2 separate regions of the Homo sapiens genome follow, and region 1 is linked to region 2. The links come from fine-mapping of genetic effects on gene expression. A gene starts in region 2. The other region holds a variant in brackets. All regions are shown on one strand. Distances are between the middles of the regions.

Evidence for each region. PIP is the estimated chance that this variant, and not a neighbour inherited with it, causes the effect.
Region 1: its variant is fine-mapped to the expression of IFNGR1 in T cells (TOPMed, PIP 0.98).

Annotation. Positions count from the first base shown.
Region 1 is chr6:137,191,659-137,197,041 of GRCh38, reverse strand. No RefSeq gene overlaps it. Among named protein-coding and RNA genes, the nearest start is that of IL22RA2, 21 kb to the right of the region's middle. The variant A/G (reference allele first, on the strand shown) is at 2,946.
Region 2 is chr6:137,217,264-137,222,646 of GRCh38, reverse strand. IFNGR1 (interferon gamma receptor 1) reads left to right here and starts at 3,262. Exons shown (of 7, transcript NM_000416.3): 1 at 3,262-3,404. The coding sequence starts at 3,320. RefSeq lists enhancers at 2,792-3,041, 2,892-3,622, 5,063-5,122 and silencers at 3,082-3,311, 3,352-3,571, 4,032-4,081.

The DNA of each region.
Region 1 (5,383 bases), 26 kb after region 2:
ATGGACCAAAAAAAATGAAATACAATTTACATGAGTAGCAAATCACATTTCTTTGGTTTCTGGAAAGATATTTCTCTTCACTTAAAAATGCAAATTACAAATGAGATACTATCAGTGAAAAAAGTAGTGGTGTGGTTTGCAGTGGAACTGGTATAGTCACTGATTTTAGGGTAATGTCTTGTAAATTGCTTTTCAAACTGATACCCCATACATATCACATTCCACAAAAGTAATATCCTTCAACAGACTTTGATCTCTCTTGTGGGAAAATTACAAAAAAAAAAAAAAAACTACATGAACAATGCACACATTAGAATGGGAAAAGCAAAAATATGAAAATAATTGAAATAGCCAAGGAAGAGGTAATACTTACTACCCTCCAAAATGATTATACCAATGTGTACTCCCATCAAATGTGAATGAAGTACCTGTTTTTACACCCTAGCTAATTGACTGAAATAAGTCTTTAATCTCGGTAAAACACTTTACACATTAAATGCATTTGCATTTCTTTAGTAAATTTGAGCATGTTTTTATATCTTATTTATAGTTTCATGCCAACTCATCTTGTTCTTTGTCCATTTTTTTATGGGCTGTTTATATCTTTCTTACTACCCTTTATCTGCCCTGAGTTACAGATTTATTTTATAATTTCCTGCCTTTTGACTTACCACACAGATGTTTAAGTTGTTTATAAAGTCAAATTTATTTATTTCCTTCTATTTTTAAAAAGCCCTTCCCCTTTCCCCAAAAGATAGAAGTTTTCACTCATGTTTTCTTCTGGTCTTTGGTGATGATTGTTTTACATTTAATTCTTCTATCCATCTAGATTTTTTTCCTTTGAGGACAGAGATAGAGATCCAGCTTTATTTTTTTGTTTTAGTTTCCTGTGGCTGCCGTAATAAATTACCACAAACTTGGGTGGCTTAAAACAACAGAAATTTGTTATCTCACAGTTCAGAGGCTAGAGGTCTGAAATCAAGGTTTCAATAGGGCCAGATTCTATCTGAAAGCTCTAGGGGTGGAGGGCCCCTTCCTAGTTTCTAGTGATTGTTGTCAATCCTTGATATTCTCTGACTTATGGCTGCATTATTCCAATTTCTGCCTCTTGTCACCTGGCATTCTTCTCTGTATGTCTGTGTCCAGATCTTTATAAGGACACCAGTCAATTGGATTGATTAGTCCCACTCTAATCCAGTATGACCTCCTCTTAACTTGATTACATCTGTAAAGACACTTTCCAGTTAAGATCACATTCATAGGTACCAGGGGTTAGGACTTCAACACATCTTTTTGAGGATACAACTCAACTCATATATTTCCCTTAACAAATTAGTTATCCCAAATACTATTCATTAAATTATCTAACTTTTCTATGCTGATTTCAAATGTCACATTTATCACATGCCAAATTCTCAGCACTCCTGGAACAGTTTTGTTGTTCAGTCTTTTCCCGTCTATGTATCACACTTTTAATACACATTATACTGGGATATATTTTATGTTTTTTTGAGACAGAGTCTAGCTTTGTCACCCAGGCTGGAGTGCGGTGGCACGAACATGGCTTACTGCAGCCTCAACCTCTTGTAATCAAGCAACACTCCTGCCTCAGCCCCCCAAGTAGCTAGTACAGACGCTCATGACCATACCTGGCTAATGTTCTGTATTTTTTTGTAGAGACAGGGTTTTGCCATGTTGCTCAGGCTGGCTTCAAATGCCTGTGCTCAAGCAATCTGCCTACCTCAACCTCCCAAAGTGCTGCAATTACAGGCTGTTTTGACTTCTGAGGCTTTCCTGAATACTTTCAGCCAATGTTCATTGCTCATATTTCTTAGCAATAATTATTTATTTATTTACTTACTGTATTTTTAGTAGAGACAGGGTTTCACCATGTTAGCCAGGATGGTCTCGATCTCCTGACCTCATGATCTGCCTGCCTCGGCCTCCCAAAGTGCTGGGATTACAGGTGTGAGACACTGCGCCCTGCCAGCAATAATTATTTTTTAGGTGAACTATAACCTAAATTTTTTGGCCAAGTTTTCCCCCAAATTTTAAACTCCTTTGGGATTTATGTTGGCATTGTTTTGACTTTATAAAATGTTTAGAAATAACTAATATTTTCAAGGGTTGAATGTTCTGCAAGAATGGAGACTATTTCTGTCTTCAAGTCTTACATCCCTCATTAGAGGTTTACTTCATACAGGTGTAGAAAATTTACTAAGTGTATTCCTTGATATTTTATGTTTTTTGTTGCCTATGGGAATGTCATCTTGCATTGTGGCTCCTGAATGGCTGTCTATATGTACACGCACACACAAACTATTGTTACAAGTTGTTTTTGTATCTAGCCAACATCTAAACTGTTTTTTCTTCATGGTTTTTAGTTGATTGGTTTTCCCAGTGTACAAACGTGTTGTCTATAAATAAGAGTAATCCTGCCTTCTCATCACCAATATTATATTTTGTTTTTTATTCCCTTGTCCTCAAACTTTGATGAATTGGTATACGCTATTTTCCAAGAGTGATTGACCAAACCTGGTGGCTGTGGGCAAATCGCTTAGCCTCATGAGAGGGTTGGATTACATTCTCTCTATCTTTTGGCTCTTAAGAGTCATTGCTTCCATTTGTGTTAATTAGTAAGAGCATTGGCTGGGTGCGGTGGCTCATGCCTGTAATCCCAGCACTTTGGGAGGCCGAGGCAGGCGGATCACAAGGTCAAGAGATTGAGACCATCCTGGCCAACATGGTGAAACCCCGTCTCTACTAAAAACACAAGAATTAGCCATGCGTGATGGTGCATACCTGTAGTCCCAGCTACTGAGGAGGCTGAGGCAGGAATCGCTTGAATCCAGGAGGCAGAGGTTGCAGAGAGCTGAGATCACGCCACTGCACTCCAGCCTAGTGACAGAGCAAGGCTTCGTCTCAAAAAAAAAAAAAAAAAATTA[A/G]AGCATCATCTTTCCAACACAGTTTTGTGTCTAAACTTAATTTTTTTTCCCCTACTTATTTCTGGTTACCAGAAATTCACGTTATTGAACCATTATTCATGCCAAGTTAAATTGTCTTAAGATTACTGCCTGGGTCCAATTTAAGGTACCACTTCTTATGCCTGATAAGGATATAAGTGGATGACTTAGAAAATAAGTGCCAGCTTTGTTTGTATAGTCATTAGTTAGCTTCATTTATGAGATGCAATACTTACTCTACCTTCCACCGCCCTGCAAATAATAACTGGTCTCTCCATTGGTACTGTTACAGGGCTTTAAGGCTTAACCACGTACCCCAAGCTCTCTTTGCTCCAGTATCTCCTCTGCCCAGGAGATAAGTGTCAGATATTTAATTGAGAGGAAAGAGTGGCAGAGATATGTTCTGACTAGCACATTCCCAGAGTGTCCTTTCTAGAGCTAATTATAAAATGTTATAATACCCACAATGTATCTCCAAAATTAAATATTGAGCAGATATCTACCAATAAAAGGTGAGTAGTAGAGAACACTCACACATTGGCTTCTCAGACAGCCTTTTTAAGGAAAATTCGTGGAGCTGAACAACACAGGTATGTAGTCAGACTGGATGTCAGACCCCAGCCCTTGGGCTATGGGACATTTTTGCTACATAACCAGAGATGTGCCAGTCCCTTTCCTGGTATAAAAAGAGGTGAGGGCCAAAGGGGTCAGTAGGTACTTCACTCAATTCGAGGGGCCTCTGATCCATCTGAGGTGAGGCCACTTTTATTTCACTTCTGACACCATCTTGTGAACCTAAATAACAGCAAGAGTCTCTCTAAAAGAAAATAATATTTGAGAATGGGTCTTGCAATGAGAAAATAGTAAACTGCCTGTGTATTCAGGGAGATAAAGGAAGACAAAAGTTTTTAAAAGAAAAATGAAGATGACCTAATTGTATTGAGATAATTAACCTTTACTATGTAAGCCAAAAATAAAATTGTAAGCCCTCCCCACCTCAAACCATCTAAACGGACGCCCCCTCTTGGCCAAGCGCATTGTAAAGTTAACCTGAAAAACTAGTTCAGGCCATGATGGGAAGGGAGAGTTGGATATAACTCAGTATACCCTCCTCCCTTTTGGAACTTAGGAAAAGCTGACCAGCATTAAACTTACGTCTGATAAGAAACATTTTCAATCTATTCTCTCTGAAATCTGCTACCTGGAGGCTTCATCTGCCTGATAAACTTTGGTCTCTACAACCCCTTATCATCATAACCCAGGTATTTCTATTGATTCTGGGTCTTTGGGTAACAACATAACTCTTTCAACAAATTGCCAATCAGAAAATTCTTAAATCTACCTATAACCTGGAAGCCCCCACTTCAAGTTGTCCTGCTTTTCCAGATTGAACCAGTGTACATCTTACAGGTATTGATTGATGTATTATGCCTCCCTAAAAAGTATAAAAGCAAGTTGTACCCTGACCACCGTGGGCACATGTCATCAGGACCTCCTGAGGCTGTGTCATGGGCACATGTGTCATGGGCACATCCTTAACCTTGGCAAAATAAACCGTCTAAATGTATTGAGATCTGTCTCAGATACTTTTGAGTTCACAAATTGGTGATGAAGGGATTCTGAGTGGAGGTGCCCCTGACCTTTGATGAATCTATTGGTGCTTGGTACCAGCTTGAGCTATCCTTATGGCTCAAATCAGAAGGACAATTTGCTGAGGCCTGGGAGTTCCCCCTCCAGAGAATCCCTGATCTCTCAAAATTTGGTCGAGATCTAAAGCTTATTTTGCTCTACAACTCCTTTTCTGGAGTTTTACTTGATTCCAACAAGGAAAGCAAGTTTTTCTGCTTCCATGATGATGCATAGCAGGTAACTCATTTCTGGAGTTTCAGCTAGTTTCCGATAGGGAAGGCAAGAACCTTATGTCTGTTCCTGTGCACCTTTCCAGGTATTTTTCCTGCTTCTAAGATGGTAAAGAGCAATCTTGTGCCAGGGCTCTATTCCTAGGTAAGTAGCAAGAATTGGGATTTTTTTGTCTTGGAAATTCTCCTTAATGACTACAAGTTGAAATTGACAAGCAGCTGGTTTTAATTTCTCCTTACCGTTAGAGCACTCAGTAATCATATTGTTGGGGTTTTTGTTGTTCTGATCTTTCTCCCATAGGATTTGATCAACTATAACAGACTTGGTCAAATTCCAATGAGAATTCCAAATTAGGGGAAACAAGGCCTCTGAATTGGCTAAAATTCCTGGCAGCTGCACAAACAAAAACAAAAACATGTGCTTGGTTTCTGTGTTCACTTCCTTTCTTAAAAAAAAAAAACAAAAAACAGTTATTCTTCTGTTTACTTTTGTTCCACTCTATTTTTCCTTCCCCCTTCACCATCTCTGGTACCAAGAAAAATCTACAGAAGGGTTCTAAT
Region 2 (5,383 bases):
GGAGAAAAGAGGAAGGAAATGCACTGTGCTCAGAGCCAAAATGCACAGTTTGTTCCACACACACAGGCTCTGTTCTCATTGGATCATATTTCTAGCTTCTTAAATTGTTTTATTTGGCCTATTAACTTGAAAGGCAGGTGAGTATGGTCTTCAAAATGTAGCCTTGCTCCTGAGCAGCAGCACTTCAGTATACACTTGGCTTTGGAATGATCTACGCTCCACCCCAATTTGTTTTCTTCATTTTAAAAACTAATCTGAGGCTCTAGTGGGGACCAACGTATACTTGGATATTCCCCAGCCATTAGGCATTGGAAATTTATCAAGGAAAGCTGGCACCGCTCATTTGTTTCTGTGTTAGCTGTATGAGATTTTTATATGGGATTTTAAAATACAGTTTATTGCTCTTCTTCCTACCTCTCTTATTAGCCGGTGGCCACCCCCATCTTTTAACTTTATTCAGGCTAATTTTACCTTATCCTTCAGGTCACAACATAATGGTAACTTCCTTAAAAAAGAATTTCCCTAAATCCAGACACAGTGGCTCACACCTGTAATCCCAGCATTTTGGGAGCCTGAGGCAGGAGAATCATTTGAGCCCAGGAGTTTGAGACCAGCCTGAGCAACACAGCAAGACCCCAGCTCTATAAAAAATTTAAAAACTAGCCGGGCATAAGGCCAGGCGAGGTGGCTCACTCCTGTAATCCCAGCACTTTGGGAGGCCAAGGTGGGCGGATTGCTTGAGCTCAGGAGTTTGAGATCAGCCTGGGCAACATGGTGAAACCCCATCTCCACAAAAGACACAAAAAAATGCCTGTGGTCCCAGCTACTTGGGAGGCTGAGGTGGAAGGATGGCTTGCGCCCGGGAGGTGGAGGTTGCAGTCAGCTGAGATTGTGCCACTGTACCTCAGCTAGGTGATACAGTCAGACCCTGTCTCAAAAAAAAAAAAAAAAATTAGCCAGGCATGGTGGTGTACACCTGTAGTCCCAGCTATTTGGGAGGCTGGGGCAAGAGGATCATTTGGGCCCAGGAGTTTGAGGCTGCAGTAAGCTATGATCATGCCTCTGCACTGCAGCCTAGACGACAGAGTGAGACCCTGTCTCAAAAGAAAGAAAAAAGAAAAGAAAGACTTTCTTTAAAATGTAGACTAAGTTAAATTCCTGTTTATACTCCTTTAATCTCTTCCCATTGCTCTCCTTGGGAATGATGATCACGATTTCAGTACTTGTGTAATTCCTTGTTTAACAGCTATCTCCCTCAGTAGACAGTAAGCTCCGTGAGGGCAGGGGCCATGTCTGTCTTGCTCAGGTCTTTATCTCTGTGCCTGGTCATGTCAGTCACAGACAGTATCACTTGATAATATTCACCCAATTAATAAATATATTTAGTCTCCAAATGACTAACTAGCAAAGTCTTCAGAAGGATACGTAGGGTGGTGGGTGCTGTGATTGTGAAACTTGCCCAGATCCCTCTCAGGAACAGAAGACTGGGTTCTGTCCCCTTCCTGATGCTAGGAGGGCTGCCAGTAGACACCCTCAACCGTCAGCGTTCCTCTGGGGAATGCCTCCATGAAAGAAATGGACAGCCCCAAAATCATGACAGTTGGTATTCAATGACTAATCAGTGCTGGGCTTTAAGACCCAGCCCCTCATACCAACTCAAGACACCTTTACAAGGCCATCCCAACTCCAGAGCGCCCCTTGGGAGCCTTTACTGGGATGGCATCACAGATCAACTTCTTCCTCCGCTCTGCTTCCTCCACCTCCCCTTCACAGACGTTTATTCCAAGAGCACTCCCTAATCAATCAATGCCTTATACCTTAATCTCGACCTCAGAGTTTACTGCCAGGGTAACCCAGCCTGTGACAAGTACCACAAAAATGTTTACAAACTGGATATCATATTTTGTCCTACTCCATAGACGCCTAAACGGTAAAGATCAGTTATTTATCCTTGCATCCTTACAACGACTAGAAGGTGTCTTTCATATAGTGGACATCAGAAACACATCAAAGGAAATATTCTCCCTAAACTTAGTCTAGATTGAGCTAAATTCTTCTGATTCAAAGTGTGGTCCTGTTGAAAGGGGCACCAGCATCCCCTGTGCATTTTGTCCGAAATACAAAATCTCAAGACCCAACCTGAATTAGAACTACTGAATCCAAATCTGCATTTTATCAAGATCCCCAGATGGTTCACATGTATGTTGAAGTTTGAGAAGTACTGAGCTAAGAGATTTATTAATACAAGTAAAATGATCTGGCTGATAATACCTCTAGTTTATATAGTGTCTTTATAAGGATTTTCCCTCTTTAAAAATTTTCCTTAACACTAGTAATCATGCAGTCTTTCACTCAACAAATACTAATTGAGTGCCAAGTAAAGATGTCAGCTCTACGGAGCTTACATTTTAGAAGGAGAAGAAAACAAATATCAAGGTGTATATTATAGTGTACAGCAAGGTGAAAAGTGCCATGAAAAAACAGTAGGGCGGGGTAAGGAGGAGGAGAAGGTGTGTTGCAATTTAAAATTTTTAACAAAAGTTCATGATACTCAGAGAATTGAAACAGGTGAGATCATTAGACATTCGCATGTTTGAGCACAAGCGCTGAAGGACTTAGCAATGTGGCTGCAGTGGAATAGGAGAGATGCAAAATAACAGACAAACCCAGAGAGGTAAGAGAGCAGACCTCTTCATGAGAGGCTGCCTGATAAACTGATTTGACACTGAATTGCTGAGAAGGTAATGCAAATAGTTTTTTTCTCCAAGAACAAAGTAGTTCTTGGTCAAGCCGATTTGATTTGGGCTGTGGGAATCTGCACAAACCATTTCACTAGCTAAGTCTCAGGTTCCTCAAATGAAAAAGCAGGGACTGGAAATGGCTTTTGAAGTCTCATTCTCTTCTAAAAATGTCAGGCTCCAAGACAACCAGGTGAAGTCCAAGAGTTAGTAAAATAAGGATTGTGGCTCGGCTGTGGCCTAATGCAAACTTGCACAACCCCAGGAAACCGAAAAAAACTGGAAGAAGAATTGCAGAATGGGGTGCCAGGTTGAAAGACCTTAACCTTTGCACTCAAATTCCTCCCACACCCAGAAGTCCAGGTCCCGACCGCACGACGCCGTGCTCACTGCTGGGTGCTGCGCCTGAGTCCGCCTCCTGCGGCTTCCCGGACTTGACCCCGCCCACGCCCTGGTCCCGCCTCCTGCCGACGCCGGCACAGACCCCGGTGACGGAAGTGACGTAAGGCCGGGGCTGGAGGGCAGTGCTGGGCTGGTCCCGCAGGCGCTCGGGGTTGGAGCCAGCGACCGTCGGTAGCAGCATGGCTCTCCTCTTTCTCCTACCCCTTGTCATGCAGGGTGTGAGCAGGGCTGAGATGGGCACCGCGGATCTGGGGCCGTCCTCAGGTACCGTCGTTCGCGGCAGGGCTGCGGCCGGGTCGGGACGAGAGGGAGGGAGGGATCCGCCCCAGCCGGGAAGCCCCGCCCCGCTTCTCCGAGGTCGCCCTAGCCCGGGACCCCTGCGTCGGGCCCTGAGCGGGCGACGGGGACGCGAGGTGGGGTCGCGAGACTGGGGCTCCGTGGTTTGAACTCGTCGGTTGCCTTTCTCCTGCCTCTTCCCTGGTTGCCGCCACAACAAATCACGCCGCTTGTTTTTCCGACTCTTGTAATCCACTTTTAAATACGATTATGCGCTGCAGAAGGACGTTGCTGGTCAATGTGGGACAGCGTGGTCTCAAAGATTATAATATCGTCTTCTTACTGTACCTTTTTTTATGGTTAGATACGCAGATACTCACTAGTATGCTACGGTTGCCTGCAGTGTTCAGTGCAGTGACAGGCTGTACAGGTTCATGACCTAAGAGCAGTAGGCTGTGTCATCTGGGTTTGTCTGGGTTTCTACTGCCCGAAGAAATTGCCTAAGGGGACATTTCTCCATTTCTCAGAACGGATCTCCATCGTTAAGTGACGCATGACTGTGAGTGTCCTGATCAGCATGTGGCATCGTGGTCTCAGTTCGTGGCTTAAATACTTCTTTCTTAGCGGGGGTGGGGGGGGGGACTCAAAGTGCTTAGGGTAGGAAAGTATGCATTATGTCGCCAGCTGAGAAGTAAGTGGCAGCTGAGAAGTAAGTGGCAGTCCGTCTTAGGTCTCAGTCTGGAAGTGGTGGATTGCCGGCACTCACTAGCAGATTTGGCAGTAGGTCTCTTCGTACGGGTTTGTTCTTCGGAGCATTTTATTTCCACCTGCTTATTGACATTTCCTAGAAAACAAATGTTGAGGGTGGCTTTTCTGAAGTGCAGAGTAATTGTGATTACGAGCTCCAGAGAAAACAGTAAACCTTTTCAATTCAGTTTTCTTTTTTTTATTATGATTTATGATTCATAGGGACTTTGAAAGGTCCACGTTTTGGTTCTGTGTTCACAACAATCTTCTGGAGTAGGCGTTATTTGTCTCTCTCTTTATGGACGAGAAATTGAGTTACGGAGAGGCCTGCCCAACTGGCAGAGAGGTCATAGCCACTCAGTGGGGAGCTGCTCAATTTGGCTCCAGAGTCCAAGTTCTTAACTGCTCTTCTAGGCTCTAGTCAGTCATCCACATGGGCAGTTGCAGTACTTTGCGGTAAGAGCTTGCACTTAGGCACAGACTAGTGGAAAGCAAGGCGGGGTGCTTGTCTCTTTTAGGGAAGTCAGTGAAGACTTCACAAAGGTGACCCCAGTGTTGGAACCAGAGGTGCAGAGACTGAGGTGCAGAGGTGTGATAGCATGTTGAATTCGTGGAATATTAAGCGTTCTATTGTAAAGTGTGTGTGAGAGCTTACAAGGGGAGGAGATAGGTTAGGTGGAGAAGTAGGAACCAAATAATGAATTGCCATATTATGTGTACCAGCAAGAAACCTAGCTTTATTAACTTAAGCAAAAAGAGGAATTTATTGTCTCAGAAAAACCAGAGTTAAACAGAAAATTATAGATGCCAGCTGGGTCTCAAGAGGCTAGAACCAGGAACCCAAACTGCTAGGACTCTCCATTTCTTATTTCTGTCTGGGTATTGACAGCTTTCCACACTTGGCAGGAATCATGGATGCTGACAGCTTCTGAGTTTTGACATCTTGCAGCCTCCTCCATTCTAACAAAATGCCAGGGAAAGGCTCTGATTTGCCCAGCTAGGTTCAGGTGCCAGCTTGCATGGGAAGGACATTCTCGTAGAGGGTTGGGTTGGGTTACCAGAAGAAGCGGAATGGCGTGCCTGAAGTACAGGTGTTGAGCCAACAAAATAATACACCCACTATGCCTTGCTGAAGTCAGTCATTATTTACTAATGCTGACATCATTGGATTATCAATTACAAAGGGAAATGATTTTATGCAGGATCAGACATGCCATTTA